Linked DNA regions of Homo sapiens: all the other regions are linked to region 1. Evidence: fine-mapped expression QTL. A gene starts in region 1. Each other region holds a variant in brackets. All regions are shown on one strand. Distances are from middle to middle. Region 1 holds the start of CD200R1 (CD200 receptor 1). Region 2 has its middle 23 kb from the start of CD200R1L-AS1. Region 3 overlaps CD200R1 (CD200 receptor 1). Region 4 overlaps CD200R1 (CD200 receptor 1).

What was found. PIP is the estimated chance that this variant, and not a neighbour inherited with it, causes the effect.
Region 2: its variant is fine-mapped to the expression of CD200R1 in nasal epithelium (TOPMed, PIP above 0.99).
Region 3: its variant is fine-mapped to the expression of CD200R1 in whole blood (INTERVAL, PIP 0.98).
Region 4: its variant is fine-mapped to the expression of CD200R1 in lung (TOPMed, PIP 0.94).

Annotation. Positions count from the first base shown.
Region 1 is chr3:112,971,408-112,979,518 of GRCh38, reverse strand. It overlaps CD200R1 (CD200 receptor 1), which reads left to right and starts at 4,416. Exons shown (of 8, transcript NM_138806.4): 1 at 4,416-4,728. The coding sequence starts at 4,662.
Region 2 is chr3:112,775,139-112,783,249 of GRCh38, reverse strand. No RefSeq gene overlaps it. Among named protein-coding and RNA genes, the nearest start is that of CD200R1L-AS1, 23 kb to the left of the region's middle. The variant G/A (reference allele first, on the strand shown) is at 3,140.
Region 3 is chr3:112,932,532-112,940,642 of GRCh38, reverse strand. The region is part of intron 2 of CD200R1 (CD200 receptor 1); the gene reads left to right. Among named protein-coding and RNA genes, the nearest start is that of CD200R1, 39 kb to the left of the region's middle. RefSeq lists an enhancer at 6,836-7,005. The variant G/T (reference allele first, on the strand shown) is at 5,043.
Region 4 is chr3:112,917,934-112,926,044 of GRCh38, reverse strand. It overlaps CD200R1 (CD200 receptor 1), which reads left to right. Exons shown (of 8, transcript NM_138806.4): 6 at 852-960; 7 at 1,510-1,555; 8 at 2,246-4,840. The coding sequence ends at 2,368. Among named protein-coding and RNA genes, the nearest start is that of CD200R1, 53 kb to the left of the region's middle. The variant CTG/G (reference allele first, on the strand shown) is at 4,588.

The DNA of each region.
Region 1 (8,111 bases):
GTGAAGCTATTTTTGAATTTGCTAGATAAATTTACAAAAATCTTAGCATTGATTTCACCAAATTATCTCCAGGGGGCAGCAGAGAGTAATCTTAATGCAAATAGATGATTAGAAACAGCACAGGGTTTGCTTATTTATTTAAACAAAACAGACCAATTTTGAGCAGGTAAGGAAGAAAGAGTGAATTAGTACATAAATAGAGTCAGTAGGGGTTAGGAACCTGGGAGATGTATTGGAGACAAAACAGAGTTACCACCTTCAAAAAAGTAGATAGTAAAGCAGAGACTAATTAGCCACATAGTTTAAGAAGTAGACTTTGGAGTGAGATTTCTTGGGCTTGAATCCTGTTTCTATCACTTATCAGCTGTGTGGCTTTTGACAATTTACATAACCTCTCTGCTTTGAGTTTCCTCAATGGTAAGTGGTATTTACTATATAGGATTGTTGAGATAATTAAATTAGGTAATATTTATAAACTGCTTAGAACAAGATCAGGGTGTTAAGCTTAGGGCTTGACAAATACTTGCTATGGATCTGACCAGTGAGATTTACAGTTGATATTTAGCTAAATATAAAATGTGATTACTAATTTCTCTACTCTGATTTTGCTTATTTTGATACTGCACACATTTGATTTTCAAACATCTATTTCTCAATTTTCCTTTTTGTATAATCTGTAAAATTATAATAAAAAATAATCATTAATTCCAATATGATATATTTTTTCTAACTTTTTAAGAAGACTTTTTATACATTGACGTAGATCAACCATATATTAGGAGTAAAAATTTTCAAGAAAAATCAATATAATAGTAGGTATAAAAATAGAAGTATGCATTTTTTGAGGCTCTTTTAAGTTACTGTTTAGTCTATTTAATGATTGTCCATGGAGGAAGATACAGGATTTCAGATGAGTCTTGAGAGCATGGGTCAATGAAGGTTACAGAGAGGTAAATTGGAAAATAGAAAATGGAATATGCCCAGGAAAGCAGTCTTTTTATGCAACTGTATGTTGAATTATAGCATTTCTGTGGTAATTCATTAGATTCAGATCTGTAGTTATTGTACAAGGGAGCAGAGAGGAAGTAAAGACAAGAGTGGAGTGCTGTAGAGTTTGAGTCCCTTGAAATTCTTTAGACTATTCGGTATTGTTCTTTTTACCTCTGTGAAATTGGCATGTTACCACTTGGCTAGCAGTAGGACAGAGTAGATTGAGGGAATTAGGACTAAGTGTTTCGCTAGCATATTTGTGTGAGCGTGTGTGTGTGTGTTATGTTTGTGTGTGCACACATGCAAGTGTATAGAAGGGTAAGTCAGGCCAGATATCTAAGCCAGAGAGTTCACCAAAAGTAACAGTGACAAGGCAAGTAGTTATTGGCCCATTTTGCAAGAATGCACATCCAGAAAATTCAGCTATGGTAGGAAGGGCAGGCAGGTGCTGAAGTTCTCGGCAGTCAAGACTCAAATATAAGAGGTGAATGAGTCGGCAATGGTACTGGGGAGCAAAGGGTCCCGGGAACGAGAAGTCAGGAATAAAAGTCCATAGAATCTTTGCAGTAAGTATTCAAGAGCCATGCAAATCTTCTACATAATGGGGAGGAATCCCAAGAGGAAGGCTGCAACACTTCATCTTAAATGGTTTCAGTGTGGCTAAGTCTGAATCTGACATTGGAGAGAAAGATATACACCTGATTGGAAGAAGTTTACTTCAACAACATTTATAGTTATTACATCAATTTTCAGTTTATTGCAATTGATAAATTGAGTAAACCAGCCATGCTGGTTTGGGGGCATTATGGCCTAAAGTAGTTCTAATTTACTAAAGTTTCTCTGTCTTTTTGTTTTGGCTACAACATTAACTGGCATTACATTGTCCTGTTTGTTTCTCTTATGCTATGATTCTTAACTGGTATTATTGAAGGAGAATTGGAAAACTGGTAGAGTAAAAGGTTTGGGTTTCTGGTTTGAATGACACCTGTTTCTTGATCCTTTTTCACTCTTTTGCTTTGCTTCCTGGGTCCTGTGCCCAAGGGCCGCAACCAGGGAGAATTTGGGGCCTTTAGATTTTTTAGAGAGGTGTATTTACCAGACACATCTTTCTCTTATTATACTGACTTTCATGGCATGTCTTTAGTGGATGATTATGTTAACAAACTTTTAGTCCCTTTATTGTTTTAAACATTCATGGTCCATAAAAGGTAGAAGGTGGGAGTTGAGAGGTTACAGGCATGTGATTTGGGGGTGGAGAGGATGAGGGACCAGGGAGAGAAACTGTCATCCTGCCAAATCTATTTAGTGAATTTTATGGTTTTTGATACCCATCACTTGATTCTTAAACTGCTGATTGCAGATTGTGGTCTGACCTCAGGTGAGTGCATTGGAGTGTGTCTATGAAAGTTGTTGCCTGAAATTTCAAAGTAGAGGAGTTGAGTGAAAAGAACACAGGGCTACGAAATATAACACATTTTATTCCCAGCCGTGCCAATAAGTTGTTTTGAGGCCACAGGCCATTTAGCCCTTCTGTGGTTTAGTTTTGGCTATGTCATTGAGCAGATATTAAAATAAATGATCTCCAAGAATTTTTGATGACATGAGAAAAAGCTAATGTCAATATAATATAAACAGATACAGACTTGAGTAAGAAACTTTCCCAGTATCACTGGACTAGTAATTGCACAACAGAGACTTAACCCTATGTCTATCTGTATCCTAAGCGAGTGTGAATTTTAACTTTAACTTCTCTCTGCTCACTGCAACCTCTGCCTCCTGGGTTCAAGCGATTCTCATGCCTCAGCCTCCCAAGTAGCTGGGACTACAGATGAGTGCCATCACACCTGGCTAATTTTTTTTTTTTTTTTTAAGTAGAGATGGAGTTTGGAGTTTTGTCATGTTGCCCAGGCTGGTCTCGAACTCCTGAGCTCAGGCAATCTGCCCGCCTCGGCCTCCCAGTGTCCTAAGATTACAGACATGAGCCACTACTCCCGGCCAACTTTCACTTCTATGTAGTGGAAAACCAGAATATTATCTGTATTTTAAATGATGTATTCTCACTAATTTTCCGACACCTGGTGAAACATTAGACAGAAGAGAAGACATTTTTGTTTTGGTCTTCCCATTGTCACAGCTCATACCCTTAAGTGTTCCATGCCCTCAAGGATCTGGTTTCACTGTCTTCATCAAATTAATTAACTGGAAAAAAAAGCTTGAGAAGGGGAAGGGGGGAAATATTTATAATGTTTGGCAAGAAGGAAGATGAAACTGCTAACTGAGAAAAAAAATGCATGCTGTTTAATCTTTTTCCTGTTTGCAATGTTTTCTTCCCCTTCCTGTACAGTTTTGCCTTGGGGCAGAAAATTCTCAGCACATAGAAGATTTTTCCCTCTCTCAGACATAACTTAAAAGCATAGTAACATAGTAACTAGCAACAGTAAGGAAGAGGTTTTTTTGTTGTTGTTGTTGTTTTTTTTTTTTGGTTAGGGGGAGTCTGAATTCCAGATGTGTGGCAACTAAGAGATGGGTGATTATTTGTAATTTGGTTAAAATGATCAGTCTAATTTTCCAAAGGTGAAACTGAATGGCAATAAGTACTGAGTTCTGATAAACAGAATGCCCTCACCCCCAACAAGGTAGATACCTATGTCCGAATTACCGAAACCTGTGAATGTTACCTTGTGTGGCAAAAAGGACTTTGCAGATGTGATTAAATTAAGATCTTGAAATTAGATCATGTTGGATTATTTGGGTGGACCAAAAATAATCACAAGGTCTTTATAAAAGGGAGGCATAAGGGTCACAGTCAGAGAAGATGTGACAGTGGACCAGAGGTCCGAATGATGTAGCTGCAAGCCAAGAAATGCAGGCATTCTCAAATCGCTGGAAAAGGCAGGGAGCAAATTCTGCCCGAGCCTCCAGATGGAGTGCAGCCCTTCCAACACCTTGATTTTAGTCCCCTAAGATCCATTTCAGACTTCTGATCACCAGAACTGTAAGATAATAAATGTTGTGTTGTGTTAAGCCACTGAGTTTGTGGTAATTTCTTACAGTAGCAATAGGAAACTAATACACATATGATGTTTACAGGGTTGTGTGTTGACTCCCATTATAGACAGGAATTTCACACAATAATTTTCAAGAAAACATATTGTATTCCAGACTCAAATACTAAGGCCGTAAAGCTCTTCAACCTGGAGAAAGCCTCTAAAAGTCATCATAATTGGGAAATTTACAAGGATGGGCCAAAGTAGATCAATATTCTGTTTTACTTTTTGGTGCAAGTTTAGACAAATCTGTTTATCTTGGACACGTTCAATGCCTTACTGTAAAGTTTGTCTGTGTACAGCAGAAGTGAGAGGAGAACCAATGAGCTGAGAGATAATTCAATCAATCTGCTTCCTCCGTCTTTGCTTCAGGGCTTCATACAGGAAATCTATTGCTGTGTCAAGTTCCAGAGAAAAGCTTCTGTTCGTCCAAGTTACTAACCAGGCTAAACCACATAGACGTGAAGGAAGGGGCTAGAAGGAAGGGAGTGCCCCACTGTTGATGGGGTAAGAGGATCCTGTACTGAGAAGTTGACCAGAGAGGGTCTCACCATGCGCACAGTTCCTTCTGTACCTGTGTGGAGGAAAAGTACTGAGTGAAGGGCAGAAAAAGAGAAAACAGAAATGCTCTGCCCTTGGAGAACTGCTAACCTAGGGCTACTGTTGATTTTGACTATCTTCTTAGTGGCCGGTAAGTTTGAATTCTCTTTGGGAGAACAGTGAGAAACCTGGTCTCAGCTCTTCCTGAGTTTATTTTTTGTCTTTCTTCTGGGGCAATACAAATCAATTGCAATAATAAATATAGGGGGTTGCTAAATATGGGTTACTCCCATATCTAGTTTACTTTATTATCCTTTTTTCCGGTGTCTTGCTTGTTGTACTTTGTATCCTACTACAATATACAGATCTCTATAATTTGTCTTACTGTCCATTTCCTTATTTCCTCCTGTTTTTTGAACAAGGCAGGATAAATCAAATACATACTAGCAGCAATCAAAGTCAGTTAGGTTCTCTTTATCTTATTCTCTTCCCCAACCCCCTTTTTTGAGACAGGGTCTTGCTCTGTTGCCCAGGCTGGAGTGCAGTGGTGCAATCGTAGCTCACTGCAGCCTGTAACTCCAGGTCTCAAGCAGTCCTCCCACTCAGCCTCCTGAGTGTCTAGGACTACAGATATGCGCCACTATGCTTGGCTAATTTTTAAAATTTTTGGTAGAGATAGAGTCTTGCTATATTGTCCATGCTGGTCTTGAGCTCCTGTCTTCAAGCAATTCTCCCACCTCAGACTCCCAAAGCATTGGGATTACAGGCATGAGCCACTGCACCCAGCCTCTTCTCTCTTAATTTTTTTTTTTAAGATAAGAACGCTAACTCATTTAGGTCCACATTGCCAGTGGCATAGATTAGGACAGTTTATTGCTTTCTGTCACTTTCGATGATTAGGCACTTCAAAAATATAATATGCCTACAGTTACAGTGGTGCGTCTGTGATGTATGTCTGTATTTATCTTCAAGATGTGTGGGCTGTAAGAGACACTACGAGTTAGAGAACAGACTCTTCAACATCTAGGTTCCTATAGAAGTTATAGAGAACTTGGGCCACTGTGGGGGTGTCCTGGTTTCACTGTAGAAGGTTGGTAGGAGTTGGTGTGGGAGGGAGTTTTCAGGTTTCACTTTTGGTAGACAGAGCAGCTGCAAGGGAAGAGTGTAGTTGGTTTTAAATGTTATAATTTGATAATTGAAAGAAGAAAAGGTATTTTTCCTCATTTCTGAATGACTTTAAAATGCTGCTTATCTTCCACAAAAAATCTTCTTTCCACATGTTAATCTTACTAGTGAACACATGCAAAATAACTACACTCTTTGACTGCACCTTTCTATTGAGAATTTTCACATGCTTTTTTCCCTTTGATCTGCACAGCAACCCAGTGAAGTAGACATGGAAGACACCTCTCCATTTTACAAAGGTAGAAATGGAGGCGTAGAGAGGTGAAATGATTTGGCCAAGGTTAGATATGACTAGTATGTGCCAGAATCACAATCAGTAATGATATACATCAGTAAGCACCACTAAACATTTGAGTGGGCAATTTTCCTCATTATTTAACCATTGTGCTTTTCACTGAAGAGCATCAGTGAAAAAAGTCAAGCCAATACTTAGTTTTAGCCTTAATAGACTGTTACTCACCTAAAAAGTCAAGTGATCTGAATCTTTCAGTAGTTCAGATCTTGTTGTAGAAAGCTCTTATAGCAACTTGTGTAGGACCCAGCTTGGCTGGGGCAGCCAGATAGGCAAGGAGCTGTTTATGTCAAATTGCACTGTTACTCCTGGGAAAAGGAAAAAAAATGATTAAAACATAATTTGTAATTTTCAATTTTAAAGGTTGAAAGGTTTAAATTTTAAAACTATTTCTGAACACAACTAGGAAAGACTACATATAGCAGATCTATGAAGTCTATGCTTATGTTATTGTAAAGTTATTAAATGTTTAAAATCAGGATTTAAAAAAGCATATTACTTTACATGTAGTGATTTGGTGTGATAGGTTAACCATGACATGATTTAGAATAATGAGAAGCATACCACTTGGGGAAATATGACTTTATGTCTTTATTGCTAAAACTGCTATGTTATTAATACTGCCAAACAGAAAGAACTCGCTTTGTACAAGGTAAATTCACAAAGGAACAAGGGAGCTAATGACTTAAATGTAAAACATAGTATTCATTTGGTTTCCCTATTTTCTTTTTGTCTACTTATTTGCTTATAACTTCAAGCAGCTTGGCAGTTAGTAAACAAGATTTATCCAGAAAAAACCTAAGGGGAAAAATAAAAACAACCTAAATTGTGTACATCAGAGCTATATTCCCAGCCTTGTACCTGGTCCCCTTCCCGGACACTCCCCGTACCCTGTGCCACTTCTTCCTCCTTTTTTTTAGCCCTATTGTCTTCTAGATTTTTGTGTGTGTGTTCAAATTATATTTTGGTGTTCCAATTAAAATTATTCCATCTTTTATAAAAGTTACTGATTTTGTGATTATGAGTTACTAAAAAGGAACCCTTCACTTCTTTCCTTCTTTGGGCTAATTTTTATTCATTTATTGTTGTCTTCCACTAGAGGACAGGCAGTAACAAGAAGAGGAGATAAAAATCAAGACAGGGCTCTAAGGTAGCTTTGGCAGATTTGCAAACAGTGGAAAAAGATTCAAAACAATTGTGCAAAAGAAGGGTTTTGTCCTTATTAATAACTTTAGTCCTATCTTCCTTTTCTAGTTTGCATATTTGTGAATTTACATGTTATAATAATTTATAGGTGTGTTTTTCTCTAAATGTTCATGCTTAAGCAATTAATAAATTAATTAAAAGTCCTTATTAATGTCTGTGTGTGTGTGTAGAATAGTGCCTAAAAGTTATTAGTAATCTAAATTAGAAAGACAAAGGTAAGATGAAACAATTGGTGAACATTTAAAATCAGTAAATCTTGAAATTGTATATGAAACTAGTACAAATCTAAAGGAGGGAGAAATTACAGTGGGTTGGAGTTGTGGAGGATTTTATGGAGATGGGTCTTGAGCTAGGCTTTGAATGACAGGTTTGGATAAATGGGGAAATGCAGAGAAAGGAATTGGAAGGATGGGATGTGTAGCATGTGCAAATGCAAGGTGCTTCAGAGAGAGAAAGAGCTGTAGCTTGCAGGAACAGAGGTTGTGTGTTAAATAATAGTAGGAAATAAGGCTGGATTTTGGGGGTCCTTAATAGCTAAATTAAAGAACCTGGGTATTAGTCAGTAGACAATGAGGAACCACCTGTTCTTTGGTGAACAGGAAAATTTATAATTAAGTAGGATTTTTTGGAGAATAATGTGGTAACAGTGTCCCATTGAGTGGCGGTGGCACTAGGTAAAATATTTATTTTGAAACATGAGTCAAGAGCTTCTGCCCTGGGGTTCTCATTTGAAAAAAGTTCTGTGATGCCGCTGAGGTATATATGTGACTGAGAAGGGAGTTTCGTTGTGGAGGAAGATATTAAATTCAGTATAGGAAGGGAGGACAAGTAGGAGGAAAATTCCTACAGAT
Region 2 (8,111 bases), 200 kb after region 1:
TTCCCTTCACACATCCTTCACATTTTAGGTGCCTCAGTCCTGGACTGAATGCTGATGAAGACTCCCACTCAGGTATTGCATCAGGGCAGAAAGGTGTGATGCCTTTCCTTACCCATCATAAGGGTCACCACCAACATTCTTGTAGCAAAAGACAGTTTAACAAGCAAAAAGCATAATACAAATTCTTATGTCACATGGGAACTTTCAGAAATGAAGACCAAAAGACCCAGGGAAAAGTGTCCGTTTTTACACTTAAGTTTGATGAAGAAAGCACAGCTGTGTAGAAACGTGCCTAGGCAAAAAGGTATGATCTAATGTTGATAGACTGAGGGGATAAACCCAGCAAGGGCTGTCTGCTCAGATTCTTTCTGGCCTCTCTCTGTAGCATTCCTTTCCCTGGGGCTGGACCCTCTGGAGTGAGGGTCTTGCAGGATGAAGAGAGAGAGTGACCTTTCTAGTTTTCATAGCTTGCTTTGGGCGAGTGGAGTTCTAGTTTTTATGATCTGCCATGGGGAAGAGGAATTCTGGTTTCTCTGACTCCCTTCAGGGAAGAAAGGGAAGTGGAAGACCAGAGGGCGGGGGAAGGTCAGAGAGACCTTGCTTCTGAGGTCCTTCCAATCTCCTTCAGTTCAAAGTACTTAGCATGCCAAGGCACCATACTTTGCAGTATCATGTTCTAAGCCCCCAAATTGCTGACTGTAGATGAGGAGGGTTTGAATTCCAGCCAATGAGAGAAGGTAAAACTGTTGACATCACTTTATTTTGGTCTACTTATCACTTAGCATTCTGGTTTATTTCTTGCTGATTTTCCCAGGGAGCAAGCCACACGTTGCTAGAATGAGCAGTCATTTTTTGGGAGGACAACACAATCTAATCTTATAAGGAGAAAGGGTATTCCTTTTGAAACCAAAACTTTGACCCTATCTCTTATGGAAACATGACCTTAATAACCTTAATAACAGGACCTACTGGCAGTAAATGGCTCTCTTTGCCATTCTGGAGAGTCAGAATCAGCTTTAGGAGGCCAGAGGGCAGAGATTTATCTGCTTTGTTCATTGCTGTATCCCTTGCATATAAGCACAAAGCAAAAGCTAAATATATATTGGTTGAAATAATAAATTTGTTTATCCTCCAAAGTGTCTATCCTGTCCTGCACCCATGAGAAGAAGGAAATTTTAAATTCATCCTGCAATACATGTGCACACACATACACACATACATACTGTTTGGATCTTTCTTTGCAGGGGTAGAAGGCCAGATGCTTTTAGGTCCAGGCTGTTTTTGGTTCCAAGAGACTACTGGTGAACTGTAGAATAGTACATCATTTGCTTTATGGCTGAAGGTGAGTATATCCAAGGGAGAAGTTGAGGAGGGGAAATCTTGGGGTGAGATGATAGGCTATCTAAATATGTTATCTATCTTAAGGAGCTTGGCAGAAAGGGTGAGTCAGGGTATAGAGCCATTGGGATGGAGCGAGTCAGAGATAAAATAAGAAAATATGTTCTAAGTATAACATGGAAGAGTCAAATTTTGGAATCTCCCAGGCAGGGAGCAGCCATGGCTTTTAGAGGGTGCTCATGACCACAGTGGGTAAGGAGATAGTAAAGACATATATAACCATGTGATTATATATGTATATATATGTAAATGTATGTGTGTGTATATGTATCCACACGTATATAACCACACCAACTTGCTGTCTTTACTCTCTCCTTACCCACTGAGGCCATGAGTACCCTGTAAAAGGGGATAGACTTTACAAAATCTACCAGTCCACAAGATAAGGAATTTGTAATTATTTCTTAAGGTTTGAGTCCATTTGAAGAGTGGTTTGTGTCAAGCAATGAAAAAGCCAAATACGATGTAGTATAAATCAGGATCCAGAGAGGAAAGCTCAGTTCGTGCCAGGTGTCCAATAGAAATAATTTAATACAGGGCACGAGGTACAAAAAGACTGGAAGAGCTGAGAAGCCAAATAGGGCTTCTTAAAGATTAGCAGCTTAAAGATTAGTAACAGCAGGAAGCCACTACCACCCACAGGACTGAAGGGACAAAGAAAGGAGATAGTGTGTACCAGAGCTTGGAAGTCAGAGTCACCTGGAGCTGGATGTGTAACATGTGTAAGATGGCTGCTTGGTGGGAGCTGGGACCATGGAAAAGGGCCCATTGGCATTGGCTGGGATTATGGAGAAGACCATGTCAACACTGGAGATACTGCTGGAAGCAGAGGAAGGGAAGATAAATCCCCTGGCTTCTCCATTCCTCTTATTCCTCAATTTCCTCCTAGTGCTGCCAATGACCATATCTAGCTGGAGGCAGTTGGCAAGGGAGTTTGGAAATTTTATTTATAGGTAAGGGTCCAAAATAAATTTTGGAACAAGCAGGTAAATAACCTGTACAGTGAATTAAATAAAGAGAATTCTCTTGGTCTTTCCCTGAGCACCTGAGGTGGCTGGGACAGCTCCAGCTCTAATGTCCATGCGCAAGGTAGGAAGAAGAGGGAAAGGCTATGCCAATCATTTATGTCTCCATTTACCAGCAAAACTAATTTCTATTTTCCAGAATGTGCCCAGTTGACTTCTATTTAGTTCTCACTGGCCTGGACTGAGCAGCTGAGAAACGGGGAAAAGAATGGTCATAATTGGCTTAGTCCATTTATCCCCATCTGAAGTGGTGCACAATGTTATTATAACCAAAATAAAGGTTTCAGATGGTGAGTAAAAGTGGGAAGTGGAGAGTGAGTAGGTAGCTAAAGTGTCTGCCAAAGAATTAAATGTCTTCTGGACTTTCAATCTTTGCTGACTTACTTTGGACTTTAAAGCTTCTGAGCAGCTTGGTATCCTGGTCCTCACTGAATTTTAACTGTTGGCCCCTCCCTGTTAGATATTTCACTATTTGTTCATAACTTAGTTTGAATCACTAGCACTTGTCCTTAATACTCTGAACTTCCTTCTTTAGTCTATTGTCTCCCAGTTTTGATTACATAAGGACAAATTCAGTATCTACTATGTACCAGGCATTGTTCTAGGAAGGTGAGATACATCAGCGAACAAAACTGGCAAAAAAAATCCTTAACCTCTGTAGAGCTTACATTCTGGTGAACCGAGACAGACAATAAAAAGTAAATAGCATATTAGAA[G/A]GAAGTAAGTGCTATGGAAAAAAACAGAGTAAAGTGGTTGGGATGGGAAGTTTCAGGGTGGAGTGTTCTCAATTTAAAATAGGACACTCAGGGTAGGGCTCTTGGAAGCTGAAGCCTCATCTGACTACTATCTGCATGGTTCTATTTCTCACAGAAAAGGTCAGGCTGGCCTTTCTCATAGTTAGGGAACCTTCCACTTTTCCTGGCTCTAGGGAAAAGCCATGAAAGTTTTCTTGATTCAGTTTTTCTAGCTTTCAAAGAGTAATAATTATGTTATTTGAAGTTAGAATTTATATACTTATTTTGTTCCGGACTGCTGAAAAGAACATGTTAACAGCAAAATCATTCAAGATTTAAGAAAATAAATCTGCTTGCACCAGCAATTTTAAAGTTTGATTAGTTTCCATCAACATATCCCTTATCTAAACATTTCTGAATTAAATAGCTTTTAAAATAGATATGCTACTGTAAAATAAAAATATACTTGAAGAATTTCTAATCATTGACTTCACACTAATTTCATGCTTAACCATGTAATTCTTCTGATTTAAAATTTTGATCTTTTGAACACAGTTTCTTTTTCCCAAGAAGGGGGTGCTATATAAAGATAATTGCTTGGTTGCAAAGACCAAAGTGTTGCTGACCTTTTGCTTGAATATCCATCCCTTTCCTCTTATATTTCACCAGCTTTTAATATATTTCCATCCTTTTCCTCTTATATTTCACCATTAACTCCATCCCTTTCCTCTTATATTTCACCATTAACTCCAAATGAGCCAGGCCTCATCTTTCACCCTATTCCTATCCTAACCAGTAGCCACAATAAGTTCAGAGTGAGATTCCTCAGATACATCCTACCTGCTGTATCCTGAATAAACCAGCTTGACTTGCAGAATTTTAAGCAGGGTAGCCTGAGCTTGTGGGTAATCATTCTTTGAGAAGGTCAGGAGCAATTGTCACTTAAATCCAAAGCCTTACTGTTACCCCAATTTACATTTTCCTCTATTTATGGAATACTACCTCATTTTCATCACTTTCCTAGAACCTATTAGAAATATGTTTTCTTCTATGACCCTAATAGTAACTCAGGAATACTTATATGTTTTGACATAATCTGGAATTTGTGTTTAGAGATTAAAATCTAAGATAATCCAATTCTGTTATATTATTTTAGTGCTGAATTATGTTTTTTAAAATTGTAGACAAAGTCTTCAGTAATCTCTATGCTGATGATTAAAGAAAACATTGCTATTTTCATAGGTCATAGAGAGGATAACTGAGGAATTCATTGGCAAGCTTGTGGGTGTTGCTTTTTACAGTAATTTATTGTGAAATATAGGTGAGTCATTACCATATTACTGCTACAAAACTGCAATAACCTCAAAAAATTTTTATAAAACATTTCAAATTGGGGTAGAAAAAGAACTTCTGAAGAAGAAAAGAGACATATAAATCAAACGTGTCCACGTGTAGTACTATGTGGTGGCGGGGGGATCCTGATATATCTTTAATCCCTCTTGGAATGTATTGAGTGTATAGAATGTAGAATATCTTTGTTTTAGTCTGTGTATTCTTAACATACCACTACCACCTGACTGAGACCAGCGTTTGCTCTAATACTTACTATGCAACCGTAACACTGGCATTGCAGTGATTCATCATATGGAATTGTAGGCAGAGAAAAGCTATTAGCCAGCCCATGCAATAATTGAACCCTTGAAAGAAAGTTTATTGACAGATTACTGTGCCTACTTTGCAAGGCACTGGGGATGCAGAGATGAATAAGCACAGTTTTTATTTTCAAGAAATTTATAGTACAATCCAGGGCAGATATGACTCTTTTTTTCTTTCCAAGCCTGGATGCTCAGTGGACACACTTTTTCACACAGCGATCTAGGAAGCCATCACATTTCCAGCCCCATCTCCATGATCCTCTGGGTTCAGCCATATTATCTTCAGATCCTTGAACCTGTCCTACACTTTAGCCTTTGAGCTATTGAACTTGCCATTCCTTCCTCCAAAATCACTGCCCTGCCCACACCCACAGACCTCTTCTTTGCTTGGTTCACTTCTACTGGTCCTTTGCATCTGGATTTAGCTCTCACTTCCTCTAGGAAGTCTTTTCTGCCCCACTCTGCCTCCCCCTGCCCTCCTAAGTGTTCCCACTTCCCCATCCCAGTATTTATCACATCTTCCTGAAATTGCCTTTTTACTGAATTCTGTCTCTCACTAGGCAATAGTCTCCATGACCATAGGGACAGAGTCTTGTTCACAACTGTATCTCCAGGAAGGATGAGCATGCCTGTTTCATAGTAGACGGTCCATAAATGTTTTTGAGTGAAGAATCTGGCGCAGTTTTTAGAGCTGGGGGTCAAAGTCAGAGACAGATTAGAGGCCAGAGTGATTGGGTCCAGGACTTAGATAGGTGGGCAAGATTGGGTAAACTTCTCTTCTTGGGCCTGTCTATTCTGGGGCAGGGAAAACCTTTGGATGGGTTTAGGGGCCTCACTTGGAGGGCCACAGAGGCTTGAATCCAGCAGGGCATGGTTCCAGAAGGTAGAGAAAAGGACACTCATTAATACCAATTTGACACCAAATTGGAGAGACAAACCCCCAGCAGATGCCCTCCTCTGGATGCCATAGGGTCTAGCTTGAGCCCTGCTGCCTGTACGCAGGAGTGGGAGGAGGAGATGGGGATGGAATATGCTGTAAAGGGAGAAAACATGGGTAAGGGGAAACTGTAACAGAGTTCCTTCTAGACCCAGATCTCAAGCCTTTACTTCTTTTATTCCTTGTTATTTTACTCATCTCAGCACCCCCCACTGCCTGCACACCAGATCCCTGTCCCTAAACCCAGCACCACTGTCACCTTTCAACCTGTCTCTTCCACTCTTCCATCAGATGCTCCTTGTTTAAATCATCCTTGCCTTTGCAACATCAGTCCCTGCCTTCTCTAAGGGGTTCATTGTAAGCATCATTGTTTCTTAGGCTGACCCACTTTCTAACCCTGGTCTTCACAGGACCTTGATCTCTCTCTCTCTTGAGCCAGCTGTTGGCCCAGGCTTCAGGCCCCTCGGATTCCCATCCTGCCACACATCAGACTAATGCTTCAACCGTAGCTTAACCACCCTCCAGCTGAGATGTTTGTATCAGATTTCAACATTTCTTTAATTTTTTTTTTTTTGAGACAGAGTTTTGCTCTTTTTGCCCAGGCTGGAGTGCAATGGTGCCATCTCGGCTCACTGCAACCTCTGCCTCCCCAGTTCAAACAATCATCCTGCCTCAGCCTCCTGAGTAGCTGGGACTACCACCACCACGCCCAGCTAATTTTTTTGTATTTTTAGTAGACGCAGGGCTTCACCATGTTGGCCAGACTGGTCTTGAACTCCTGACCTCGTGATCCGCCCACCCTCACCTCCCAAAGTGCTAGGATTACAGGTGTGAGCCACTGCGCCTGGCCCATTTCTTTAATTTTAATCAATATTTACCTTATGGTATCAATGGCCATGTGGGAAAGTGAGAGTGGTCTCAAGCCTTAGTGAGATCTGAGAACTAAGTGAGGAGCCCTGTCCTTCACTGACTTCTCACTCATCAACAAATATCTGTTGCTAGATGTCAGCTTATTGCTGTACCGAAAAAATTACATGGAATAAAAAGTAATGAAAAATAAACAATATTTTAAATTGGTGATCTATTGCTATGCCAATATAAATCTTTTTTCACTATCTTCTCTAGCATCCAAAAATTTGAATACTTAGCAGACAGGTCTGAGACCAGAGTGTGAAAGCCTAGAGTCCATCAGCATCACGTGATTGTTGCTTCACTAGGCAGGAAGCTGCTTGCTCATCACCTGATTCAGAGTTTCTTTCTCTGCTTCTCATCCCTGGGGGCTACAAACCTTCATATATCCAAGTGTCAATTTCACTTCCTAGCAGCTTCAGCACAATTGGGAGCCAGAGCGTTACCTTTTAGAAGGGGAGGATGACCAAGTAAGAAACAGCTCACCAGTGGGTGAGGCAATGGGTGAATTGCATGGCTTCTGCCTTTGAAGTTTAATGAACTCTTATGAGACAGACATACACAGAGGAAACAAAATTTTACTGACTTGCCTCTCATAAAACGGAGTATGATGTGGATGCCAGACTGGATTTAGATGGTACACTTACATGAGCCTCCGCATCTCTCCCGGAGCTATATTCATCATCCCCAGGGAGCCTGAGACACACATCTCCTGCTTCACCTACCAAAGAATTATCAGATGTCCAAGTTCTTCAGTGACTACTGCTTAGATCTTTTACACTCTCTGGTACTAACAGGCATTGAGCCCAGAGCCCTCCAAGGTAACTGTTGATAGTGCATGGTCTTCCAGAGAAAATGTGGGCTTAATTCTAAAGAATGAGTTAAATAGTGGCATTTCTGGTATTCCAGGCTGTGGAGAGATCTTTGACAATAGAATAATTTTCTGGAATAAGGGACATTCAGTGCCCCTGACCCATCAAGTTGCATCATCATCTTCCAGCTTCTCCAGGGCCTTGAGCCACTGAAGGGCTGTCCTCCCTTCGTGGTTCTCTGCCTTTTGTCCTGGGCTGACATCATCCATCAGTGACAATGCTTCCCAGAGGCAGGGATTTTACCCACAGGGAATGAACTAGAGGTCCACATCCTTCTAGAGTGTGGAGGTCAGAAGCCCCTGGGGAGGCACGTTGAAGCTCTCCTCCCCATTAGGGTGATTCTGATTCCCCCTTGTTTCATAATCCCCACAGGGCTTAGGGCTCTAGAGTGCAGAATAGCACAGACTGCTAAATCAGCCACGTGTCTTAGAGCTGTTTCTCCATCCAACTTGGACAGAAGTCTCTCAGACAGATGATGTCAGTGCAACTGGAGGGGAGATGTTAAAAATCTGTGCTCTCTCTGGCTGCAAAAACCTTTCCCGGAATGCTCAGGACCTGATGGTGGGATTGTAGACTGGGGT
Region 3 (8,111 bases), 39 kb after region 1:
CTTTTTGATAATAGCCATTCTAACTGGGGTGAATGATATCTCCTTGTGATTTTAATTGACATTTCCTTGATGATTAGTGATGTTGAGCACTTTTTCATGTATTTGTTAACCATATGTATGTCTTCTGTTCAGAAATATCTGTATCAATTACCCATTTTTAAGTTAGTTTTTCTGTTATTGTGGAGATATTTGAATTCCTTGTATATCTGGATATTACTCTTTTGTTGGATGAATATTTTACAAATATTTTATCCCATTCTGTAAGTTTATTCATTCTGTTTATTGTTTTGCTGTGCAGAAGGTTTTTAGTTTTATATAATCCCATGTGTTTATTTTTGCTTTAGTTACCTATGCTATTGAGGTCTTATTCTTAAAATTATTTCTCAGATCAATGTCCTGAAGTATTTCATCGGTGTTTTCTTCTAGCAGTTTTATAGTTTCTGGTCTTATATTTAGGTCTTCAATGAATTTTGAGTTGATTTTTGTATGGGGTGAGAGGCAGGAGGTCTAGTTTCATTCTTCTGCATATGAATATTCAGTTTACCCAGCGCCATTTATTAAAGAAGGTGTCCTTTCCCAAATGTATGTTCTTGACATCTTTGTCAAAGCAGTTGACTGTATATATGTGGACTAATTTCTGGGTTCTCTATGCTGTTCCATTTTTCTATGTGTCGGTTTTTATGCCAGTACCATGCTGTTTTGATTAGTACAGCTTTATGGTATATTTTGAAGTCTGTTAGTGTGATGCCGCAGCTTGTTTTTTTTTTTTTTTTGGTTTGTTTGTTTTTTGCTCAGTATGGGCTTTGGCTGTTTCGGGTCTTTTGTGGTTCCATGTAAATTTCAGGATTTTTTTTCTATTTTTGTTAAATGAAATGACACTTCATTGGTATCTTGATAGTAATTACATTTATTCTGTAGACTACTTTGGGTAGTATGGGCATTTTAACAATATTAGTTATTCTAGTCCATGAATATGGGATGTCTTTCTATTTTTTGTGTCTTCTTAAATTTCTTTCTGCAGTGTTGTATGGCTTTACTTGCAGAGATCTTTCATCTCCTTGGTTAAATTCATTCGTAGATATTTTATTCATTCATTTATATATTTTTGTAGCTATTGTAAATGGGATTGCTTTCATGATTTCCTTTTCATCTGGTTTGTTGTTTGTGTATAGAAATGCTACTAAGTTTTGTCTATTGATTTTGTATGCTGCAACTTTATTGAATTTGTTTATCAGTGTTAACAGTTTTTTGGTGCAGTCTTTAGGGTTTCTCTATATAAGATAATTTTATCTGGAAACATGGACAATTTGACTTCCTCCTTTCTAAATTGGATGTACTTTACTTATTTATTTTTCTTGCCTAATTTCTCTGGGCCAGACTTCCAGTACTATCTTGAATAACAAGGGTGAGAGTAGGCACTTTTTCTTCTAATTCTTCTTCTAATTCTTAAAAGCTGAAAGCTTTTCCCCATTTAGTATAATATTAGCTACATGGCCTATAGATGGCCTTTATTGTGTTGAAGTACTTTCTTCTGTACCTAATTTATTGAAAGTTTTTAGTGATGAAGGGATGTTGAATTTTATAAAATGCTTTTTCTGATCATATGATATTAAAATAATCACCTAGTTTTTGTTCTTCATTTTGTTGATGCAATGTATCACAAATATCGATTTGCATATGTTGAACCATCCTTGCATATCTGAGGTGAATCTCACTTGATTATGGTGCCTGATGTTTTTGATGTTCTGTTGAATTCATTTGCTAGTATTTTATATATATGTTTATTAGTAGTATTGGCTTGTGCTTTTCTTTTTTGCTGTGTCTTATCTGGTTTTTGTATCACAATCATGCTGGGCTTGTCAAATGAGTTTTGACATTCGATGACATTCAAATGAGTTTTACATTCAATTTTTTGGAATAGTTTGAAGTATTTCATCTGTGTATCAAGGACTGGTATTAGTTCTTTAAAAGTTTGGTAGAATTCAGCTGTGAAGCCATTTGTTCCTGGACTTTTCTTTGTTGGGAGACTTTTCATTACTAATTCAATCTCATTACTCATTATTGGACTGAGGTTTTCCATTTCTTGTTGGTTTAAAGTTGTTAGGTTGTCTGTATCCGGGAATTTTTCAGTTTTCTCTAATCTTTTGAATTTATTCATGTGTAGTTGTTCATAATAGTTTCTAATGGTCTTTTGTATTTATGTAGTCTCTGTTATTATGTCTCCTTTTTGTTTCTGATTTTATTAATTTGGTTTTTTCTCTTTTTTTCTTTATTCATCTAGCTAATGGCTTGTCAATTATGTTAATCTTTTTACAAACCCACAGCTCATATCATACTGAATGGGCAAAAACTAGAAGCATTCCCCTTGAAAACTGGCACAAGACAAGGATGCCCTCTCTCACCACTTCTATTTAACATGGTATTGGAAGTTGTGGCCAGGGTAATCATGCAAGAGAAAGAAACAAAGAAAATTCAAATAGGAGGAGAGGAACTCAAGTTATCTTTGTTTGCAGATAACATGATTCTATATCTAGAAAACCCCATCATCTCAGCCCAAAAGCTTCTTAAGCTGATAAGTAACTTCTGCAAAGTTTCAGGATCCAAAATCATTGTGCAAAAATTGCTAGTATTCCTATACACCAACAACAGACAAGACAAGAGCCAAATCATAAATGAACGCCCATTCACAATTGCCACAAAAGAATAAAATACCTAGGAAAACAACTAACAAGGGAAGTGAAGGACCTCTTTAAGAAAAACTATAAACTGCTGCTCAAAGAAATCAGAGATGACACAAACAAATGGAAAAACAGTCCATGCTCATGGATAGGAAGAATCAATATTGTGAAAATGACCATACTGCCCAAAATAGTTTATAGATTCAGTGCTATTCCCATTAAGCTACAATTGACATTGTTCACAGAATTAGAAAAAACAGTTTTAAAATTCATATGGAACCAAAACATAACCCAAATAGCAAAGGCAATTCTCAGCAAAAAGAACAAAGCTGGAAGCATCATGCTACCTGACTTCAAACTATACTATAGGGCTACAGTAATCAAAACAGCATGGTAGTTGTACGAGAACAGACACATAGACCAATGGAACAGAATAGAGAACCCAGAAATAACACCGCACACCTACAACTATCTTATCTTTGACAAACCTGACAGAAACAAGCAATGGGGAAAGGATTCCCTATTTAATAAATGGTGCTGGGACAGCTGGCTAGCCATATGAAGAAAATTGAAAGTGGACCCCTTCTGATATGGTTTGGCTGTGTCCCCACCCAAATCTCATCTTGAAATGTAGTTTCTATAATCTCCATGTGTCATGGGAGGGACCTGCTGGGAGGTAATTTAATCATGGGGGGCAGTTACTCTCATGCTGTTCTCATGATAGTGAGTGAATTCTCATGAGATTTGACGGTTTTATAAGGGGCTTTTCCTCCTTTTGCTTGGCACTTCTCCATGCTGCTGCCATGTGAAAAAGGACATGTCTGCTTCCCCTTCTGTCGTGATTGTAAATTTTCTGAGGCCTCCCAAGCCATGCTGAACTATGAGTCAATTAAACCTCTTTCTTTTATAAATTATCCAGTCTTGGGTATGTCTTTATTAGCAGCATGAGAGCAGAGTAAAACACCTTCCTTACATCATGTACAAAAATCAACTCAAGATGGATTAAAGACTTAAACGTAAAACCCCAAACTCTAAAAACCCTAGAAGAAAATCAAGACAATATCATTCAGGACATAGGCTCAGGCAAAGATTTCATGATTTCATGACAAAGATGCCAAAAGCAACTTCAACAAAAACAAAAATTGACAAATGGGATCTGATTAAACTAAAGAGCTTCTGCACAGCCAAAGAAACTATCAACAGAGTAAACAGACAACCTACAGAATGGGAGAAAAGTTTTATAATCTATTCATCTAACAAAGGCCTAATGTCCAGCATCTACAAGGAACTTAAACAAATGTATAAGAAAAAAAGAACCCCATTAAAAAGTGGGTAAGGAACATGAATAGATAATTCTCAAAAGAAGACATACATGCAACCAAGAAACATATGAAAAAAAGCTCAACATCACTGATCATTAGAGAAATGCAAATCAAAACTACAATGAGATACTATCTCACACCAGTCAGAATGGTGATTACTAAAAAGTCCAGAAACAACAGATGCTAGCGAGGTTATGGAGAAAAAGGAACACTTTTACACTGTTGGTGGGAGTGTAAATTAGTGCAACCATTGTGGAAGACAATGTGGTGATTCATCAAAGACATAGAGGCAGAAATACTGTTTGACTCGGCAATCTGATTACTGGGTATATACCCAAAGGAATATAAATAATTCCATTTTAAGGATACATGCACGTGTATGTTCATTGCAGCACTATTCACAATAGCAAAGACATGAAGTCAACCTAAATGCCCATCAGTGATAGACTGAATAAAGAAAATGTGGTACATATATACCATGAAATATTATGCAGCCATGTATAGATGAGTTCATGTCCTTTGCAGGGACATGGATGCAGGTGGAGGTGATTAGATTATCCTCAGCAAACTAATGCAGAAACAGAAAACCAAACAGTGCATTTTCTCACTTATAAGTGGGAGCTGAATGATAAGAACACATGGACATATGGAGGGTGGAAACACACACTGGAGCCTGTCAGAGGGTGGGGAGTGGGAGGAGGGAGAGCATCAGAAAGAATAGCTGATGGATGCTGGGCTTAATACCTCGGTGATGGAATGATCTGTGCAGCAAATCACCATGGCATACATTTACCTAATAAACCTGCACATCCTACCTATATACCCCTGAAGTTAAAATATTGCAAACAGAAAAAACAAAACTTTTTTGTTGTTGGTTTTTTGCATTTCTTTTTAGGTTCAGTTTCATTGAGTTCTGCTCTGATCTTTATTCCTCCTACTAATTTTGGGTTCAGTTTATTCCTGGTTTTCTTCCTTAATATGTGCTGTTAGGATGTTAATTTGAAATATTACTACTTTTTTGATGTAGGGATTTATTGCTATG[G/T]ATTTGCCTCTTAATGCTGCTTTTGCTGTATCCCTTAGGTTTTGGTATTTTGTGTTTCTATTTTCATTTGTTTCAAGAAATTCTTAAACTTCTTAATTTCTTTCTTTACTCATTTGTCATTCAGGAACATGCTGTTTAACTTTCATGTATTTGTATAGTTTCAAATGTTCCTCTTGTTATTGATTTCTAATTTTATTCCATTGTGGTCACATAAGATGATATGATTGTAATTTTTAAAAATTATTTGAGACTTGTTTTGTGACCTAACATATTGTCAATTCTGGAGAATGTTCCATGTGCTGGTGAAAATAATGTGTATTTTGCAGCTGTTATATAAAATGTTCTGTAAAGGTCTGTTAGGTCTGTTTGATTTATGGTGTGGTTTAGATCCAATGTTTCTTGATTTTCTGTCTAGATCATCTGCCTAATGCTGAAAGTAGGGTGTTGAAGTCCCCACCTATTATTGCTTTGAGGTTTATCTCTCCCTTTAGCTTTAATAATATTAGCTTTATATATCTGGGTGCTCCAACATTGGGTCCATATATATTTCCAATTGTTATGTCGTCTTGCTGAATAAATTCCTTTATTTTTACATAATGTTCTTTTTTATATAGCCTTTGTCTTAAAGTCTGTTTTATCTAATGTAAGTATAGCTACTCCTGCTTGTATTTGGATTCTGTTTGCATGTCTTTTTTCCACTCCACTTTCAGTTTATGTGTGTCTTTACAGGTGAGATGAGTTTCCTGTAGGTGGCATATAGTTGGTTTTTTGAGATGGAGTTTCGCTCTTGTCACCCAGGCTGGAGTGCAATGGCATGATCTTGGTTCACTGCAACCTCTGCTTCCCCGGTTCAAGCAATTCTCCTGCCTCAGCCTCCTGAGTAGCTGGGATTACAGGTGCCCGCCACCATGTCCAGCTAATTTTTGTATTTTTAGTAGGGATGGGGTTTCATCATGTTGGCCGGGCTAGTCTCAAACTCTTGACTTCAGGTAATGCACCCTCCTTGGCCTCCCAAAGTGCTAGGATTACAGGCGTGAGCCACCATGCCCAGCTGGGTCTTATATTTTTAAATCCACTTGGCCAGTCTATATCTTTTAATTGGGAAATTGAATCCATTTACATTCAAGATTATTTGATAGATGAGAACTTACATCTGTCATTTTATTGATTTTTTTTTTCTGCTTGGTGACAGTCTTGCCTTTATTTCTGAAGGATAGTTTTTCTGGATATAATATTCACTGACAGTTATTTTCTTTCAGTACTTTGAATGTATCACTCCATTTTCTCTTGGCCCATAAGGTTTCTGATGAGAAATCTGCTATCAGTATAAGGGGGATTCCCTTATATTTGGCTTGATGCTTTTCTCTTGCGTGTTTTTATCATTCTTCCTTTGTCTTTGCCTTTTGATAATTTGACTATAACATTCCTTAGAGAGGATGTATTTGGGTTAAATCTATTTGGGAAATTTTGAACTTCTTGGATCTGAATCTCTCTCTCTCTCCCAAAACTTGGAAAGTTTTCTGCTATTATTTTATTAAATATGTTTTCTGTGCCTTTTTCTTTCTTTTCTCCTTCCAGAATTTTTATAATGTGAATGTTTTTTGCTTACTGATGTCTCCTAAATCCTGTAAACTTTATTTTTTTAAAATTCTTTTTCTTTTTGTTTTTAAAATCCTCATGTATTATTTCAAAAGACTTGTCTTCAAGTTCAGAAATCCTTTCCTCTACGTTTTCTATGCTGTTGTTGAAAAATCGTATTTTTTATTTCATTCATTGACTTCTTCAGCTCTAAAATCTCTTTTTTTATGATAGCTATCTTTTTGTTGAATTTTTCATTTAAATCACAAATTGTTTTCCTGATTTTATTGAATTGTTTATCTGTATTCTCTTTTATCTCATTGAGTTTCCTTAAGATTATTATTTTGAATTCTTCTTCTGGCATTTCATATATTGCCTTATAATTGGTTATGTTACTGGAGAATTACTGGGTTGATTTGGGGGGTCTATCATATTTTCTTGCTTTTTCATGTTTGATGTGTTTCTATGTTGATACCTACATATCTGGTGCAATTGTCGCCTCTTCTAATTTTATGGTGTAGGCTTCTTAAGAAAAAGCTTATTTATATGTAATCCATTCTAGTGATGTTTGCAAGTGTCCCTATGACCTAGGTGGTGAGTTTGTGGCAGCAGTGGCACAGCTTTGCTGGGAGTTGGTTTGCCAGCCTGCTTTTCAGGTTATGGGTGCTTGTGTGCACATGGTGGGTTACTCAACTTGGCATCTGGCTTGCTGGGTTTGGGACTATGGGGCTCTTACTCTGGCCCTGGGCACAAGCACATGGTTGTTTGGCTATCCTCAGGGCATGTCTGCTAGGGGTGGACCCACTGGGCTGTTTCTTAGGTTCTGGAGTGGGTGGGCAGCCACTCGGCCAGTCTGGGGGCATGTCTGCTGAGAGTGGGCCCACCAGATTATTTCTTAGGCCCTGGGTACAGGTCCCCACCTGCTCAGCTGGTCTGTAGGTATGTCCACCAGGGGCATGCCTGCTGTGCTGTTTCTCAGTTCCTGGGGGTGAATGCACAATCTGTCAGTCTAGGGTTGTTCACAGTAGGGGCCCGCTGGCTGTTTCTCAGGCCCAGGACATAATCATGCAGACACTCAGCTGGCCTGGCTGAGTTTCCACTAGTGGTGGATCCACTGGGTTGTTTCTTAGGCTCTGGTTACAGGCACGGGGCCACTTGGTAGGCCTGGGGTTATATTTGCCAACAGTGAGCTTGTGGGGCTGTTTCTCAGCCGTGGATGTGACTGCTGGGCTGGCCTGGGGGGGATGTCCACTGGGAGTGGATCTGCCCTGCTGTTTCTCAGGCCCCAGTTGTGGGTATGGAACTGATATGTAGGTCTGGGGATGTGTCCTCTGGGAGCGACACCCTTGACAGTTTCCCAGATCCTGAGTGTTGGTGTGGGCTGCTGATTAGTCATGGGGGTGTATCTGCCACATGGAGGGCTCACAGGGCTATTTCTCAGGCCTTGAGTGAGGGCATGGGGCTGCTGGGGAGGCCTGGGGACATGTCTGT
Region 4 (8,111 bases), 53 kb after region 1:
GTTGGAGGGGAGAAACACTCTGCTATAACAGAGTGGTAGGAATTCACCACCAATGAATCTTTAAAGCAACAAAACCCTGATATAAGGTGATGTCTTGCTGAAAACTCTGGAGTCTGTATTGAAAAAGCAGTTTTATTTTAATAATTCTCAAACTATTAATGGGGCAGAAGTGTTGAAAATGAAACTACAGATATGAATTTCATGTATTGTGAGACATTATTGAATGATCTATATAGATAGATATGGATATAAATATAGATAACTTTATTTTTAGTAGACATTAATTTTTAGAGCAGTTTTAGGTTCACCGCAAAATTGAGTGGAAAGTACAGAAATTTCCCATATAAGCCCTGCCTTCGCCCATGTCCAACCTCTCCCACCTACACCTGCACCAGAGTGTTACATTTATTAGAACTGTTGAACCTCCATTGATACAACATTACCACCCAAAGTCCATACTTTACATTAGAGTTCATTCTTGGTGTTGTACATTCCATGGGTTTGGACAAATGTGTAATGACATGTATCCACCAGTACAGTATTATATGGAACAGTTTTATTGTCCTACACAATCCTCCTTGCTCTTTCTATTCCTCCCTCCTTCCTCACCACCAGATAATCAATAATTTATTGACTATTCCCCTAGTTTTATCTTTTCCGTAATGTCTTACAATTGGAATCATACAATATGTAACATTTCCAGATTGGCATGTTTCACTTAGTAACATACATTTGAAATTCCTCTATGTCTTTTTATGGTTTGATAGCTCATTTCTTTTTAACATTGAATAATAAGATAGTACATTATTTGGATTGTACCACATTTGAACCATATATTTTTGTGTCTATAGTTCCAGGTGCCAAAAAATCAGCAAAATTATATATTCCATATATCATCCTTACTATTATTATTTTGACCATCGTGGGATTCATTTGGTTGTTGAAAGTCAATGGCTGCAGGTATTGACTAATGAATGTTTTTTTCTTCTTCAGCTTTATTAGGCTAGAAAAGAGTCAGAAATATGGAACTGACCGTATTGGGTATATTAGGATGTTAACATCAAATCTCCCATAATCAAATCTTGAAGGTGTTAGATAGACTTGGACTACTTTGAATGATGAGAGAGACTTTGCTAGGTTGCTTTGGCATAGAAGCATGGAAAATTAGGCCATTTAGGGTAGGATCTTGGGAGAGAAAGTGCATGTTAATTTTCACATTTGGGTAAATAATTACAATTCCTTCATGCACCAAAGAGGAGATGTTACATGCATTCAATTGCATCAAGCTTCTATTGCATAATTTCACTTTTTCAAAATCCGGAATATTCTTAGTTGGGGATATTAACCACGAGCAGTATTCTTCACTTATTTCTAGTAGTTTCTTTCTGATTTATTATGGCTTCTATCAAAATTAAACACAATTGTCAATAGTATACTGTCTTATTTTCCCATTTTCGATCTAAACAATGATGTTTCCTCCATTCACTTCAATTTATTTTATTTTTATAGAAAATATAAATTGAATAAAACAGAATCTACTCCAGTTGTTGAGGAGGTAAGATAAGATAAAAAAGACTAATTGCAAACTTAAGCCAATAGTCTGAAAATCTAGCAACATAATTTGTAGTTTGTATCAATATTAGTGTTTCAGTTGAAAAACTAAAACAGTTCTGACTTGCAGTGCTTATATGTGTGATTACTTTGTTAATTATCTATCAAATACTATTTATACATCATCACTCTGAACCACATTTTCACTTCATGAACTATATCCTAACACATATGATGTTTGGCTCCTTTAGACTGTAATCTTTTGAGGAAATGAATTGGTGTTTCTTGTCACCAATTTGAAAGCATCTCTAATTCCTGACTTTTCCTTTTCAATACTATCATTATTTTTCTCTTACACAAACTTAAAACATATCCTGCTCCTTCATCTCTTATTATAAGTAGCTTACTAAGTCTCCAAAGCTCTCCTTTGGAGTACTCATATCACTTCATTCATCTCCATTCCTACTTGCACAGAGCCATTATCTCCACACAGAGACTTATGTAGTTAACAAATACTTTTTGATAAAATGTTAGAACAAATCCTGCTCTTATGTTTATATAGGCCCAGAAACACAATTATAAGCACTCTTGAGCACCTGTTAGAAATACTAAAGCTATGGGCAACTGTTACAAAAATACAGATAGTCTCTATGATGATTTTTTGAATTGATTTTAACTTTGAGTTCTTTCTTAGGATGAAATGCAGCCCTATGCCAGCTACACAGAGAAGAACAATCCTCTCTATGATACTACAAACAAGGTGAAGGCATCTGAGGCATTACAAAGTGAAGTTGACACAGACCTCCATACTTTATAAGTTGTTGGACTCTAGTACCAAGAAACAACAACAAACGAGATACATTATAATTACTGTCTGATTTTCTTACAGTTCTAGAATGAAGACTTATATTGAAATTAGGTTTTCCAAGGTTCTTAGAAGACATTTTAATGGATTCTCATTCATACCCTTGTATAATTGGAATTTTTGATTCTTAGCTGCTACCAGCTAGTTCTCTGAAGAACTGATGTTATTACAAAGAAAATACATGCCCATGACCAAATATTCAAATTGTGCAGGACAGTAAATAATGAAAACCAAATTTCCTCAAGAAATAACTGAAGAAGGAGCAAGTGTGAACAGTTTCTTGTGTATCCTTTCAGAATATTTTAATGTACATATGACATGTGTATATGCCTATGGTATATGTGTCAATTTATGTGTCCCCTTACATATACATGCACATATCTTTGTCAAGGCACCAGTGGGAACAATACACTGCATTACTGTTCTATACATATGAAAACCTAATAATATAAGTCTTAGAGATCATTTTATATCATGACAAGTAGAGCTACCTCATTCTTTTTAATGGTTATATAAAATTCCATTGTATAGTTATATCATTATTTAATTAAAAACAACCCTAATGATGGATATTTAGATTCTTTTAAGTTTTGTTTATTTCTTTTAAGTTTTGTTTGTGGTATAAACAATACCACATAGAATGTTTCTTGTGCATATATCTCTTTGTTTTTGAGTATATCTGTAGGATAACTTTCTTGAGTGGAATTGTCAGGTCAAAGGGTTTGTGCATTTTACTATTGATATATATGTTAAATTGTGTCAAATATATATGTCAAATTCCCTCCAACATTGTTTAAATGTGCCTTTCCCTAAATTTCTATTTTAATAACTGTACTATTCCTGCTTCTACAGTTGCCACTTTCTCTTTTTAATCAACCAGATTAAATATGATGTGAGATTATAATAAGAATTATACTATTTAATAAAAATGGATTTATATTTTTGGTCATGTTTGTAAGAGAGTGAATGCACGTGTGAGAACATTAGCTTCTTCTGAACTCATTATATCTCCACAGAGGTGTTGATACTTGATGCCTAACAGTTTTGCAGATGTGCTACATTGGAATTGTGTATTTTTATGGTGTACATTCTATTGTGATATATTTATTGAATAATTAATGTCTATTGACCATATAAGTGGCGAAAAATGCACCATAGAGGACATGGGGTATTTATTTACAAACTATGAGCTACATAATAAGCAAGTGGCCATGGGATGGCATGACCCTCCCCTCCATATTTTTGTGGAGCAAAATATTGGCAATGTTTATGTAAATCATTGTTAATATCATGAAATTATTTTTAATTAAAAACATAAGTCTATTTGCTCCATAGCAGAAAAAACATGAGAAGTTTTTTCATCATGATAGAAATTGAAACAAAATATATTCATTCTTCAATCATACCATCTGAGATTTTTAAGACAGCTATTTTGTCTTATAAGTATATTTTTCTCCCTCTAGACATTTCAGTTACTATGGATTTTGTCCTCAAAGGGACTTTTAGTCTATTTTGGATGTAAAGCTAATCTAATGACACTTGGCACATGATATTTTGATCAAGCCATTTTGACTTGACCAAAAAGCAGTGTCCATTAGGTTTCTGCATATAAATATTACCAAGCAATGTTCACAATAGACATCATTACACTGTCCTTGAAATTTATTAATTCTTCATCCAACCCTGGTTGAGCTGAGGCTCATAGTTAGGTTCAAGACTATCTGTTTAAATATTACTGAAAAACAAAGTAAGACAGTACTATGCTTACCTCTTAACTTGATAATGTCAAAACAGGCATGTTAAATGACATCATAGAAAAGACTTCAAGATAATTTATAGAAGTTAAATTATATTGTACAGAAAATAATTGTATGAAAATCTCTACTATGGGGCTGGAACATGGTTGAACATTAGAATGATATAAAAAATTATATATATTCTCCAAATCCACGCTAGACCTGTCAAATTAGAGAATCTAGAGATTAGACCTGGCGTGTCAGCAAGGTCATCCAGGAAGCAGAGGCTGAGACGGAGTTAGGTGTGATTACTTACATAGTCGATTACATTTTACAAATAACATTTTATATGTCTCATTTACTGTGCTTTCTCCCCATCCCATTTTGTATCTTTTCCTTTGCTTTGCTAGATTTGTCAATTTTCTCTCTCTTTCT[CTG/G]TCTCTCTCTCTTTCAATATCTCTAATAATTTGAAAGTAATTCATCATAACTAAATATCTATTGGGGTTATGCTTCACTTACAAACTTCTGAAAACGGCTTTACTGAGATATAATTGATATATTTAAGTGTACAGTTTGTTAAATTTTGCACATATTTAAAATGTGGACTTTGGTAAATGTTGACATAGTTTTACATCTGTGAAACCATCAGCATAATCAAGATAATAAACTTGTCCATCACCCCCCAAAATTTTCTTGTTTCTTTGTGAGCCTATCCCTACAAACTTCTTGTTCCTCCTCATCCCCCGCTCCCCAGGCAACCTCTGATCTGCTTTCTGTAACTATGTATTAGTTAGCATTTTTTAGAATTTTCCATAAATAAAATCATGTAAATATCATCACAATAGACACTCTTTTATTTTTTTGGTTGGACTTTTTTTCTCATTATAATTATTTTGAGATACATCCACATCCACACAATGATACTGCATTCTTTTTATTCCAAATAGTATTTAATTTTATAGCTATACCAGTTTGTTTATCTGTTTGCCTGTTGGTGGACATTTGTGTTGTTTCCAGTTTTGGGTTATTAGAAATAAAGCTGCTATACACATTATTTTGCAAGTATTTTTGTTGACATATATTTTTATTTTTCCTGAGCAAATACTGATGAGTGGATTGGCTAGATCAGATGATATGTAGATGTTTCACTTTTAAAGAACTTGCCAATCTTTGTTTCTTTTCTTTTTTTAATTTTTTTTAAAGTAAACTTTTAATTTCAGATTAGTTTCATTTATTATTATTATACTTTATTTTATTTATTTATTTATTTTTTTTTTTTTAATTATACTTTAAGTTTTAGGGTACATGTGCACATTGTGCAGGTTAGTTACATATGTATACATGTGCCATGCTGGTGCGCTGCACCCACTAACTCGTCATCTAGCATTAGGTATATTAAGTCCTGGGATACATGTGGAGAAGGTGCAGGTTTGTTACATAGGTATACACGTGCCATGGTGGTTTGCTGCACCCATCAACCCATCATCTACATTAGGTGTTTCTCCTAATGCTCTCCCTCCCCTAGCTCCCCACCCACCAAAAGGCCCCAGTGTGTGATGTTCCCCTCCCTGTGCCCATATGTTCTCATTGTTCAACTCCTACTTATGAGTGAGAACATGCGGTGTTTGGTTTTCTGTTCCTGTGTTAGTTTGCTGAGAATGATGGTTTCCAGCTTCATCCATGTCCCTGCAAAGGACATGAACTCATTTTTTATGGCTGCATAGTATTCCATGGTGTATATGTGCTACATTTTCTTTATCCAGTCTATCATTGATAGGCACTTGAGTTGGTTCCAAGTCTTTGCTATTGTGAACAGTGCTGCAATAAACATACGAGCGCATGTGTCTTTAAAGTAGAATGATTTATAATCCTTTGGGTGTATACCCAGTAATGGGATTGCTGGGTCAAATGGTATTTGTAGTTCTAGATCCTTGAGGAATTGCCACACTGTCTTCCACAATGGTTGAACTAATTTACACTCCCACCAACAGTGTAAAAGCATTCCTATTTCTCCACATCCTCTCCAGCACCTGTTGTTTCCTGACTTTAATGATCGCCATTCTAACTGGCGTGAGATGGTATCTCATTGTGGTTTTGATTTGCATTTTTCTGATGACGAGTGACGATGAGCTTTTTTTCATATGTTTGTTGGCAGCATAAATGTCTTCTTTTGAGAAGCATCTGTTCATATCCTTTGCCCACTTTTCGATGGGTTTTTTTTTTCTTGTAAATTTGTTTAAGTTCCTTGTAGATTCTGGATATTAGCCCTTTGTCAGATGAGTAGATTGCAAAAATTTTCTCCCATTCTGTAGGTTGCCTGTTCACCCTTATGATAGTTTCTTTTGCTGTGCAGAAGTTCTTTAGTTGAATTAGATCCCATTTGTCAATTTTGGCTTTTGTTGCCCTTGTTTTTGGTATTCTAGTCATGAAGTCTTTGCCCATGCCTATGTCCTGAATGTTATTGTGTAGGTTTTCTTCTAGGGTTTTATGGTTTTAGGTCTTAGGTTTAAGTCTTTAATCCATCTTGAGTTAATTTTTGTATAAGGTGTAGGAAAGGGGTCCCGTTTCAGTTTTCTGCATATGGCTGGCCAGTTTTCCTAGCACCATTTATTAAATAGGGAATCCTTTCCCCATTGCTTGTTTTTGTCAGGTTTGTCAAAAATCAGATGGTTGTAGATGTGAGGCATTATTTCTGAGGCCTCTGTTCTGTTCCATTGGTCTATATATCTGTTTTAGTACCAGTACCATGCTGTTTTGGTTACTGTAGCCTTATAGTATAGTTTGAATTCAGGTAGCGTGATGACTCCAGCTTTGTTCTTTTTGCTTAGGATTGTCTTCGTTGTATGGGCTCTTTTTTGGTTCCATATGAAATTTAAAGTAGCTTTTTTCCAATTCTGTGAAGAAAGTCAATGGTAGCCTGAGGGAGATAGCATTGAATCTATAAATTACTTTGGGCAGTATGGCCATTTTCATGCTATTGATTCTTCCTATCCATGAGCGTGGAATCTTTTTCCATATGTTTGTGTCCTCTCTTATTTCCTTGAGCAGTCGTTTATAGTTCTCCTTGAAGAGGTCCTTCACATCCCTTGTAAGTTGTATTCCTAGGTATTTTATTCTCTTTGTAGCAATTGTGAATAGGAGTTCACTCATGATTTGGCTCTGTGTTTGTCTATTATTGATGTATAGGAATGCTTGTGATTTTTGCACATTGATTTTGTATCCTAAGACTTTGCTGAAGTTGCTTATCAGCTTAAGGAGATTTTCGGCTGGGACGATGGGAGTTTTCTAAATAGACAATCATGTCATCTGCAAATGGAGACAATTAGACTTCCTCTCTTCCTATTTGAATACGGTTTATTTCTTTCTCTTGCCTGATTGTCCTGGCCCGAACTTCCAATACTATGTTGAATAGGAGTGATGAGAGAGGGCATCCTTGTCTTGTGCTGGTTTTCAAAGGGAATGCTCCCAGCTTTTTCCCATTCAGTATGATATTGGCTGTGGGTTTGTCATAAATAGCTTTTATTATTTTGAGATACGTTCCATTAATACCTAGTTTATTGAGAGTTTTTAGCATGAAGGGGTATTGAATTTTATCAAAGGCCTTTTCTGCATCTATTGAGATAATCATGTGGTTTTTGTCATTGGTTCTGTTTATGTGATGGATTACGTTTATTGATTTGCTTATGTTGAACCAACCTTGCATCCCAGGGATGAAGCTGACTTGATCGTGGTGGATAAGCTTTTTGATGTGCTGCTGCTGGATTCAGTTTGCCAGTATTTTATTGAGGATTTTTAGCACCGATGTTAATCAGGGATATTGGCCTGGAATTTTCATTTTTGTTGTGTCTCTGCCAGGTTTTGGTGTCAGGATGATGCTGGCCTCATAAAATGAGTTAGGGAGGAGTTGCTCTTTTTTTTATTGTTTGGAATAGTTTCAGAAGGAATGGTTCCAGCTCCTC